2 separate regions of the Homo sapiens genome follow, and region 1 is linked to region 2. The links come from fine-mapping of genetic effects on gene expression. A gene starts in region 2. The other region holds a variant in brackets. All regions are shown on one strand. Distances are between the middles of the regions. Region 1 overlaps TMPRSS11A (transmembrane serine protease 11A). Region 2 holds the start of TMPRSS11A (transmembrane serine protease 11A).

The links. PIP is the estimated chance that this variant, and not a neighbour inherited with it, causes the effect.
Region 1: its variant is the best candidate, but not a certain one, in a credible set for the expression of TMPRSS11A in testis (GTEx, PIP 0.60).

The regions. Positions count from the first base shown.
Region 1 is chr4:67,933,910-67,939,300 of GRCh38, forward strand. The region is part of intron 3 of TMPRSS11A (transmembrane serine protease 11A); the gene reads right to left. Among named protein-coding and RNA genes, the nearest start is that of TMPRSS11A, 27 kb to the right of the region's middle. The variant G/A (reference allele first, on the strand shown) is at 3,159.
Region 2 is chr4:67,960,467-67,965,857 of GRCh38, forward strand. It overlaps TMPRSS11A (transmembrane serine protease 11A), which reads right to left and starts at 3,027. Exons shown (of 10, transcript NM_001114387.2): 1 at 2,917-3,027. The coding sequence starts at 2,927.

The sequences.
Region 1 (5,391 bases), 27 kb before region 2:
TAACTTTTTGGTGAAGGCATTGGATGAAGTTTTTGACTCTGGATGACATCATCAATCTGGCACCGTGCCTGCTATGAATGTCTAAACCAAGCACCAATTTTATCTTTGAATTGTTAGGTTGTCTGGGAAGATAGGAGCTGTAAAAATAACATGAGAAGAATCTAGGCAGAAGTAACTTTGGTGATCACAATAATAAAAAGGATCCTTCTTTATAAAATTCTAGGACTCTCTCTCTAGAAAAGTCTCATTTACTACATCGGAGGAGGCCTTAGAATCTTTAGGTGATACAGGTAGTCTGAGGACAACGCTTTGAGAAATGGGGCAGAGGGACTGGTAAAAAGAATTCTGATAAAATGAATTTACAGCAGGAGGAAAATCAGAAAAAACATGAACATAAGTTTTATTGTAGAATGGAGCTTATGTATAAACTAGCTTTCTAAAGACCCTGAAATTGTTTCCATGGCAGATGATGGCTTTCATTATTAGAAGCATTCTTTTTGCCAACGTTCTGGCATTCCAAGTTCCCAGAAGTTTCAGAGAAACTTATATATTTAAAGTTGTGTGCCAGGTTGTTATAAATCTATTGTTATCTATACAACCTAATAGCATTAGCAATTTGTAAATCTATCCTATCTCTCTCTTTAGGGCATTTCTAGAATTTTGTAGTTGGAGTTTGTCTCCTAGCATTGAACAAAAGACCCTCTTTCAGGGTAGTATCTCTTTCTGCTTGATAATTTTGACATGCTGGAAATTACACTGAGATTAAGTTCCAAGAGGGCAATTGAAGGTTAGTTGGATATTTAATGAAAGAGTGAGGGAGAGGCTGTCAACTCAAACAAACAGACTCGCCCAGCCATTCAGCTTTCATTCCTGAATTAACTCTGTTTATACATGTTGCCTGCTTTTCTCTGCAGGTGCTTCCTGACTGGCTCCCCTTACAGCAGTCAATGTATTCACTTAGGGAGTGTTTTGTGGCTAACACTGTAAACCTCAGATAGATATGTCACTGCAGACTGGCATATGGAATATAAATGAGATATAAAAGCTGTTTTTTCCAACGTAACACCAGGTGAGCTCCTTAGAATTAAAGAAACCAAAACCATGCTGTGAAAAAAAACTTTAGATCCTATTGCTTTCTCCTAATTACAACAAGAGTAACATGCAAAGGATATTATATAAGAGGGATTTTTAAAAGACACTTTTAGCCTTAAATAAAGCTTCACTGAGGTTTCATTGCCACAAGGATTGAACTCAAGGTAAAAATAGGGAATTTGAGCCTTTGAGCCTCTGTCCACAATGTTAGACATTCAAGGTCCTCTCCCTCTGTGACCAACTTGCCTGGCTCCATCTTCAACACCACCAGTACTTTCAGGCATGGCCCTCATTTTCCTGCATACTCACGCCTCTCAGGCTGTTCCTTTGGTCTGTAACAACCTTCTCATTCTGCAAGTTCTGTGTTCCTGAATCACAACTATCCTTCAAGGCCAATCTCAGATAATACCTTCTTTGGGGATATTCGTTAATCTCAAACTGACCTGTCTTCCCTCTGTCTCAATTTTTCTTATCCCTCTTATACCTTTTATTCTTTAATGTAAACATATATTATATATTTATGCAATATATTCACTATATATTTATGCAAATATATAGTCTCTTTTATTAAACGGCAAACCCTTTATGCATAGAGATGGCAATTTATCTTTTCATAGTCTATAAAATCTAACATAGTGCTTTGCATGCTGTTGGTATGTAGTATATTTTTGTTGAATTAACAAATTGATAAAAAGGTGAGAATTTATTTATCAGAAAGTTTTGCATTTACCAGGAAAATTTTATAAGACTTTTTAAAGTGCTTGCTTTACATCAGGTTGAGATCAATGCTCCTAGAGAAAAAAGAAAATTACACATGAATTATCGGAAGAGATTTTTTTTTCCTGTTTTTGGACATTTTAGGTAATTGATTATTTGTGGAAAGCTCCTCCTTGGTAAGACTGTAATAATTATAATAGTGGGAATCACTGTTGTCTGCCATATATGCACCAAGCACAGATGTCATTGTGTTTGAGCTCATTTGCTTTCAAATCAGCCCTCTAAGGTGAGTACTATGATTATTCACGTTTCATAGAAGAGGAAGTGACTTGCCCAAGTTGACACCACAGAGTTCACTGAAACCAGGGCCATGTAGCTTCAGAGCCTGTTAACGCCTTCACAGTGCCTACCTCAGGATGAGCATGCAGGTAGGTTCTCACTAAGACCTCCTACCCACTGATGGGCAGCAAGCAGTTTGTAAGAGGATCAGAAACTGTTGCACCCCTCTCCAAAGGCAGCCTATTTTCTTTACTCTCCAAAAATAAGAATCATAATCTTGGTAGTTTTTAGTGCAGTCCTTTTAAGTTCGTATCATATCTGTATAAAACTCTAGGTGTTTTTTTTTTTTTTGGATCCAAGAAGTCAGCTATGAACCATTCTCTCAAGCCTGGATAGAGCTTAGTCAACCTGAGCACTGAGTGATGCTCACAGAAGGCTTTTTGGCCTTCTTGGGGTCAAGCCTAACTGCCACATCTTTAAGTGCTGTGTCTATTGGAGAAAGCAGTTGGATCCAGTGTCATACAAGGTGTGTGGGTGTGGAGGGTGCCATGAAACTGTGACTTTCTGATCACCCTAAACAAAAAGGTAATCAGATCATCAAATGGGATGTGATATTTTGTGATGCCATCAGTCATTTCTTTGATTGCACTGGTCCTTCTTCAGTGTTTCTTTGTGGAATGTCAGAAAGAAATGGACAGACATCTGTCACTACTCACGTGTAACAAGTAGCAATATATTAGATATCCATATCCCAAATTGGCTTATATTTCTGAGATCACAAGGCAAAATATTTATAGAATTTAAAGATTTGCAATTAAGGATTTTAAAGAAAAAAGTATTAATTCTCAGTGTACAACAAAAACCTAGATCTTTGAATTGCTTTTGTAAAAGAGGAAAATATCTCATTTGGATCTATTTAAAGCTGTACTAAAAATATTTAAAACCAGGATACCCAAAGCAAGGGAAGGTCATTATTTAGAAGGTTCATGTCCTCTCCAGATTTGTTGTCTTCTAAATCTCTAAATTGGATTAGTTTATGAGAGAGAGAGAATCATTTTTCTTAGCCTTTT[G/A]TAGTGCCTAACATCATGCTGTATTTGCTGAATGATGATGATAAACTAAATAGATTCTCCTGTGAAGACTATGCTGTATTTACAACTTTATCAGGAAATTTAGAAATAGTTCATATTACTTCTTTTCTCAAAAACTTCCCTCAAAAAGCATACCCATCCACACCTTTCTTCCAACTATAGATTGTTCACACTAGATGTACATACACATGTCAATATATCCATCAGCTTCCTTCATCTTTCTCTATTACAGTTCCTCCTACCTTTGCCTTCCTCACCAAAAACTGATACAGGGAAATGAGAAAGAGAATATTTTTCTCTAATAAGTATACCTAATGTATCTGTCAAGAAAAAGTTAGCTAGCACAGCATAGAGGATTTATAATCTTCATGGATTTAAAAAATGAAATGAGAGAAGAATTGATTTAGATTTTAATAATTTTATCTTCTGTCTTAGCTGAGTCCCTTCCTGACAGTAGAACAATTTAGTGGAAAGAGCACATGTGTGGAGTTGCCTAGATGACTTCAAATCTCCCCTCCATCATTTTCCAGCTATGGACCTTAATTTCAGAAGCTTGGTTCTCTTACCTGTAAAGAGGAGATAAAAGTGCCTTCCTTGTGGTGTTACATCCATGTTGCTGCAAAGGACATGATTTCATCCTTTTTTATGGCTACATAGTATTCCATGGTATATATAGATATATATACATATATATCTCACAGTTTCTTTGTCCAATCCACCATTGATGGATATCTAGGTTGATTCCACATCTTTGCTATTGTGAATACTGTGGTAATTAATGTGAGAGTGCAGCTGTCTTTCTGGGAAAAAAGTTTATACTCCTTTGGGTATACACCCAGTAAGAGGATTGCTAGGTTGAATAGTAGTTCCATTTTAAGTACTTTGAGAAGTCTCCAAACTGCTTTCCACAGTGGCTGAACCCATTTACGTTTCCAACAGTATTTAAGCATTCTCTTTCCTCCGCAGTCTCATCAGCATGTTATTTTTTTAATCTTTAATAATAGCCATTGTAACTGGTATGAGATATTATCTCACTGTAGTTTTGATTTGCATTACTTGGATAATTAGTGATGTGGAGCATTTGTTCATATGTTTCTTGACTGCGTTGTATGTCTTCTTTTGTGAAGCATCTGTTCATGTTCTTTGCCTACTTTTTAATGGCGTTACTTGGTTTCTTTTGCTTGTTGAGTTGTTTAAGTTCTTTACAGATTCTGGACATTAGACCTTTTCAGATGCATAGTTTGCAAATATTTTCTCCCAGTCTGTAGGTTGTTTGTTTACTCTGTTGATAGTTTCTTTTATTGTGCAGAAGTTCTTTAGTTTAATTAGGTCCAACTTATCAATTTTTGTTTTTGTTGCAGTTGCTTTTGAGGACTTAGTCCTAAATTCTGTGCCAAGACTGATGTCTACAACAGTATTTCCTAGGTTTTCTTCTAGGGTTCTTGTATTAATTGTTTGTGGTCTTACATTTAATTCTTTACTGCATCTTGAGTTAGTTTTTGTATTTAGTGATAGGAGTCCAATTTCATTTTTCTGCTTCTGACTAGCTAGCTATTCCAGCACCATTTATTGAATAGAAAGTTCTCTCCCCATTGCTTATTTTTGTTAATTTTATTGAATATCTGATGGCTGTAGATGTGTGGCTTTATTTCTGGGTTCTCTATTCTGTTCTATTGGTTTATATGTCTGTTTTTGTACCAATGCCATTCTGTTTTGATTACTGTAGCCTTAAAGTATAGTTTGAAGTCAGATAATGTGAGGCCTCTGGCTCTGTTCTTTTTTATTAGGAGTCCTTTGGCTATTGGGGCTTTTTTTTTTTGTACCATATGAAATTTACAAAAGCTTTTTCTAACTTTGTGTGGAAAATTATGTTGGTAGTTTGATAGGAATAGCATTGAATCTGTAGATTGCTCTGGGCAGTAGGGACATTTTAACAATATTGATTCTTCCAATCCATGAGCATGGAATGTTTTTGCATTCATTTGTGTCATCTCCGATTTCTTTCAATAGTGTTTTTTTATTCTCCTTATAGAGATCTTTTACCTCCTTGGTTAGATGTATTCCTAGGTATTTCATTTGTGTGTGTGTGTCGCTATTGAAAATGGGATTGTGTTCTTGATTTGGTTCTCAGCTTGGACATTATTGTTTAGAAATGCTACTGAATTTTGTACATTGATTTTGTATCCTGAAACTTTACTGAAGTTGTTTATCAGTT
Region 2 (5,391 bases):
AAATGGAGATAATATTACCTAAGTCATAGGATTGCTGAGATAATTAAATGCACCAACATAATGTAATATGTATATTATAGTTTGAATGCTTATTTATAGTAAGCACTATGAGTTTGCTGAAAACTAAACCAAAAAGTAATTTTTAATTGATAATTTATAACAAGTTTAGTAATTAGTAACTAACATGGTGAGTTTGCTATTTTTGTTTTAATTCTGAAGGTATAATTTTAGAATATATTAGGAATTGCTCATGGCAAATTAAAAGTTGATTAAAACAATCAACTGAAGTGAAATTAAAATGTAAAACATGAAAGCATACAAAGGACCTGCCCAGTACTATCTTTTTGTCTAAAGGTGATGAGGAAGAGGAGAATTCTGATTTTTTGCATTTATTAAACAATGCTGAAAATAAAGAGCTATGGGAAAAAGAGATGCCAGACTTCTGGGAACAGGATAAGAATCTCACCTGAAGAAGTCATTTGGTATTTTATCTTTTGTAACAAAGATAATTGAGGTACTTAAGTGAGTGAATCATGCAATTAACAAAAGTGTAGGAAAAAGTAGGTGTATGGCTATTCTTAAAGGAAAATTCAAACAGATTCACACCAAAACAGAAAGAATCCCTGCAATACACAGAAGAGGGTAACAGAACCCATAGAGAAGAGATCCAAGGTTCATGATAGCAGAAAGAGCAAGGATACAAATCGAATATATTTGACAAGGCTTCCATATTATGTTTCTTGTTAATGGAGAAGTAAGAATGGCTAGCATGACTGTAGAACATATTGTAGAATGACTGTGGGTGAGACATAGGGTATTGTAGTAATTATTAACCATCTGCTTTGCCTCAATCCTTAAGCCTACTTGTTGGTGTGACCTGACATCTCCTGCAAATCTTCCAAATCCTAAATTAATATTGCATGAATTTGGCTTAAAGAAACCATAACCATTCAATGTTTCCCACCATTTCCTTTCTTTTTCCTTTCTTTTCTTTTCTTTCCTTTCCTTTTCTTTTCCTTTTTTTTTTTTTTTTTTTTTTTTTTTTTTTTTTTTTTTTTTTTTTGAGACAGAGTCTTGTTCTGTTGCCCAGGCTGAAGTGTAGTGGCATGATTTGGCTCACTGCAACCTCCGACTCCCAAGTTGAAGTGATTTTCTTGCCTCACCCTCCCAAGTAGCTGGGCCTACAGGTGCATGCGCCACCATGCCCGGCTAATTGTTGTATTTTTAGTAGAGATGGGGTTTCACTATCTTGGCCAGGCTGGTCTCTAACTCCTAGCCTCAAGTGATTTGCCTGCCTCGGCCTCCGAAAGTGCTGGGATTACAGGCATGAGCCACCACGCCCAGCCTGTTTCCTTTATCAGCAGGTGTCACTGATGTCTGGAACAATGGCATTGACCACTGATTCTACCCTTGTAATTTACATCCCTAAGCTGCAAACACTCCTATAAATATATTAATGTTCATAGAAAAGGACACTTTTGGTGCCCATAATTATGAGCTTGATATTTTAAAAGAGTGATTTGGAGAATATGAAATATGAAAAACTGGAAATCCTGTTTTACAATATCATGATTCTATAAACATGGATATGCATTTTCACATTCAATATACTTTAATAATTTAATAGTAAATTATTAATTTTTAAAATAATTTTTTAACAGTCAAACATTAATGCTAGATATTTACATCTGCTTGCCCATTCATTTGTTCAACAAATATTTATGGAGTACTGGTTATGTTTGAAGCATTGAAGACCCTTTCTGAGGGTCTCAGAGACTTTTTGTCAATTACTATGTGATTACTGAAGGACTGATGCAAACATGCATTTTGTGAGTGGGGAAGGAAACCTAGTGAAGTTCACTAACTTAGTGGCCAATCTCGTATCAAATTATCATCTCTGAAATTCACTGGATGGAATCCTTGCCACCCAGACAGGCTGCAGTAGCTGATAAGGAAGACTCGACTCCAAGGAGTTGAGGACTGCAAGGAATTATAGCCATGATTCTGGCTTCTGACAGCCCTCTAGACCTGGAGACGTCCCCTAACTTCTGTTTTCCTCAAATTCCTTGCTTTAAAATGGGAGTTAACGATACTTGTGATACTTGTTCTACTTAGCCACAAGGCTGTCTTGGCTATTAAAGGAAATAACATACATAAAGATGTTTCAAAAATAGTACAAGTCTAAACAATGGTGAAATATTATTATCATCATGGCTGTTTAAAATCACTATTTTAACTGTATATAAAGTTATGCCAAGGAATCTTATTTTTTCATATTCTTTGCACATGGCATACCCCATTTTGAAAAACAATACCCAAATAATTCATGTATTTTTTCTTCAAAACGTAATAGGAAGAATTGTAGAGAATAGGCATGTTTTCCCAGTATTGAGCTTGTTTTCTCATTCTCCCACATGGAAGCCCTGGGTCTTCTACAATGGAGGCAGGTGTCTCTGCAGCTATTTACCTCTCAATCTGCATTAGTCCCACAAGGACCCACCATAAGGGACAAGTAAACACAGCGAAAGAGAAAACGCTATAGAAGCTAAATTTTGTCAATATTGCTGAAAGAAGGCTTGTTTTAAAACATATAAACACCCTCCTTCCACACACACAAAAAAATCAAAACCAATTAAGACACAATGTAATATAGTTTTTCATTAACCTTTTCTAAAATCTTAACTATTGAACTTGGCCACATGAAATAATGCTAACAATTTTTATACAAAAACTTTGATTTCAAACACAGAAATTAATTAATCCAGGATGCTATGATAATTCCAGAAATTTAAAAAAATCCAGTGCAGATTGAATCCACCAAAGACACCTCACTAGCAGTCCTCTTACACATCAGGAATCCGGCCACTGACAGACAGTACATCAAACAAGCCATCTATAAAACAGAACTGAACTTACCGATACATCATGTACAGGAGGAAGAATATGATCTTGCAGGTCTGCACCCACTGAACTCAACTTTCTAATCAACTATATGACATCTCTAGATGTATTAGAAGTCTACGGCTCAAAGAAATAAGGAAACAAATTACAAGTAGTTGAAATGAAACTAGTTTGACAAGTCTGAACAGAGAAGTTTCAACCCATAGAAGGCCTTGAAGAAAGCCAGAGACAGGATAGTCCCAACAAGAAAGCAATATTTTTTTAGTATGGACTAATTTTGTTAAAGGAGGAGAAACTGGTTACAAAGATTAGAATGAGAAATACCTTAGGAATGTACTAGAATTAAGAATTTAAAGAAGATTATGGTAGGTATATAAGTATTTTAAAGAAACTGTCACATAAAAGCTCTAGATAAAAACAAACAGATCTTAAAATCTAAATACATAATAAAAATATAACTCAAGAAATATTCCATAAATTCATGTTGAACAGCAGGTATCTTACAGAAGCATAGTGAATTTACTAATACATAATAGTTTTTTTAAATACCCACTTCTGAGAGTACAGGCAAATAAATTAATATAAAACTATATGTTTCCCCAAATGACTTAATGTGATAAAACATTGACAGACATTTATCAGAATGAAAAAAAGAGAAGAAATAAACATTTTCAATTAGACAAACAACATATTAATACATGTTCTTTGTAAAAAATGAGACTAAAACCATGTTTGACAATGTCCTACTCTTGGTCCCTTTCCTTCTCCCTCAGAAGCACCTAGTGTTAGGAGAAGGGGTGTTAATGCTTATAATGCATAAAAAACATTTATGCATTTTAATTTAAAAGTATCACATTGTATACATTATTGTGCAGTTTGGTTGTATTCGTTTAACATTGTGAATATCATTCCATTTTGGGGAAAACAGATCTCCCTTATTCTTTTTATTTTTGGAGACGGAGTCTCCCTCTGTCGCCCAGGCTGGAGTGCAGTGGCCCCATCTCGGCTCACTGCAAGCTCCGCCTCCCGGGTTCACGCCATTCTCTTGACTCAGTCTCCCAAGTAGCTGGGACTACAGGACCACGCCTGGCTAGTGTTTTTTTTTTTTTTTTCTATAGTTTTAGTAGAGACGGGGTTTCACCGTGTTATCCAAGATGGTCTCAATTTCCTGACCTGTTGATCCGCCTGCCTCGGCCTCCCAAAGTGCTGGGATTACAGGCGTGAGCCACCGCGCCCGGCCCAGATCTCCCTTATTCTTTTTACCAATTGCACGAAGGACGAAAATATTTAGTGTTTCTTGTTCATACCTTATAACCAAATGGTACCCATTTAAGGGGGAACACTACTTTAAATAGAGGTTTTCCAAGTCATTGCTTCTAGCACTTGGAGAAAGCACATTTGAAATCTTTTTACACAGTACAGCAGAGTGCTTTAAGTGCATAGGCTCTCTAGGAGTGCCAAGGTTCAAATCTCAGAAGTTTCCATGTCTGTAAAATAGGAATAATATTAATTATCATCTTTTAGGGTTTTTGTGAAACATATATGAGTTAATGCTGTGCATGTAAAATGTTTAAAATAGTGCCTCTTGCAATGGAAGCAAGAAGAAACATCGGCTATTATTATTAGGACTGTATTTCATTTGCATATGTTTTCTTACCTAATATTTAACAGACAAAACCTTAGTGAAGGTTATTCTAGTGAACTATACAAGGAACACACATAGGAACATTCTTTCCTTCCTTTTCCTTCCTTTCCCTCTTTTTCCTCCTTTTCTTCTGGCATAGTGCTTCATGGAATAGTGAATAGGGCATGGACTTAGAATGGAATTCTGACTCTGCTAGTTAATTTGAGCAGATTACTTAAATCCCTTGAGCATAATTTTTCTCCTATTTAGAATGGGTTGATACCATCTATATGCAGGACCTTTGTGAGTGTTAAATTGCATAATGTATGTGAAACTGTCTAGCAAAATGGCAATAAACAACGGCTTCCATTGTGAGTGGCAGAAGTCCTCATAGACAGAGCTCTAACTTTGGAGAGAGATATACCAGCCTGCAAATCCTGGCTTTACTCTCTAGCTGCTGGTTGGCATTTTTGTGTCTTAACTTCCTTGTCCGTAAATGGAATGAATAATAGCTTTCCAGACTATTGTAGGAATTATAGGAAACAGTATATGCAAAATGCCCCTCACACTATCTGGTACAAATAAGAAGGGAATCATGGACTACATTAAGGTAAAATGATGACTGCTATGAATGTCAGTGTGGCAGAACATAAGAATTTTGTTCAGAATCTCTCTGTGCATCCTAATACAATCTGGCATCTTAGCTTTCTGTCTATTTCATTGCAGGAGTGTAGAAGACTAAATGTCTGAATATCAGCATAAACTCCAGAATTGGCAGTGGGAGTTTAATAAGCTATAGGCCAACAGGAGGCAGGCAATATGACATAGCAAACAAGAAACACAACTTTGAAAGAACCAGAACCAAA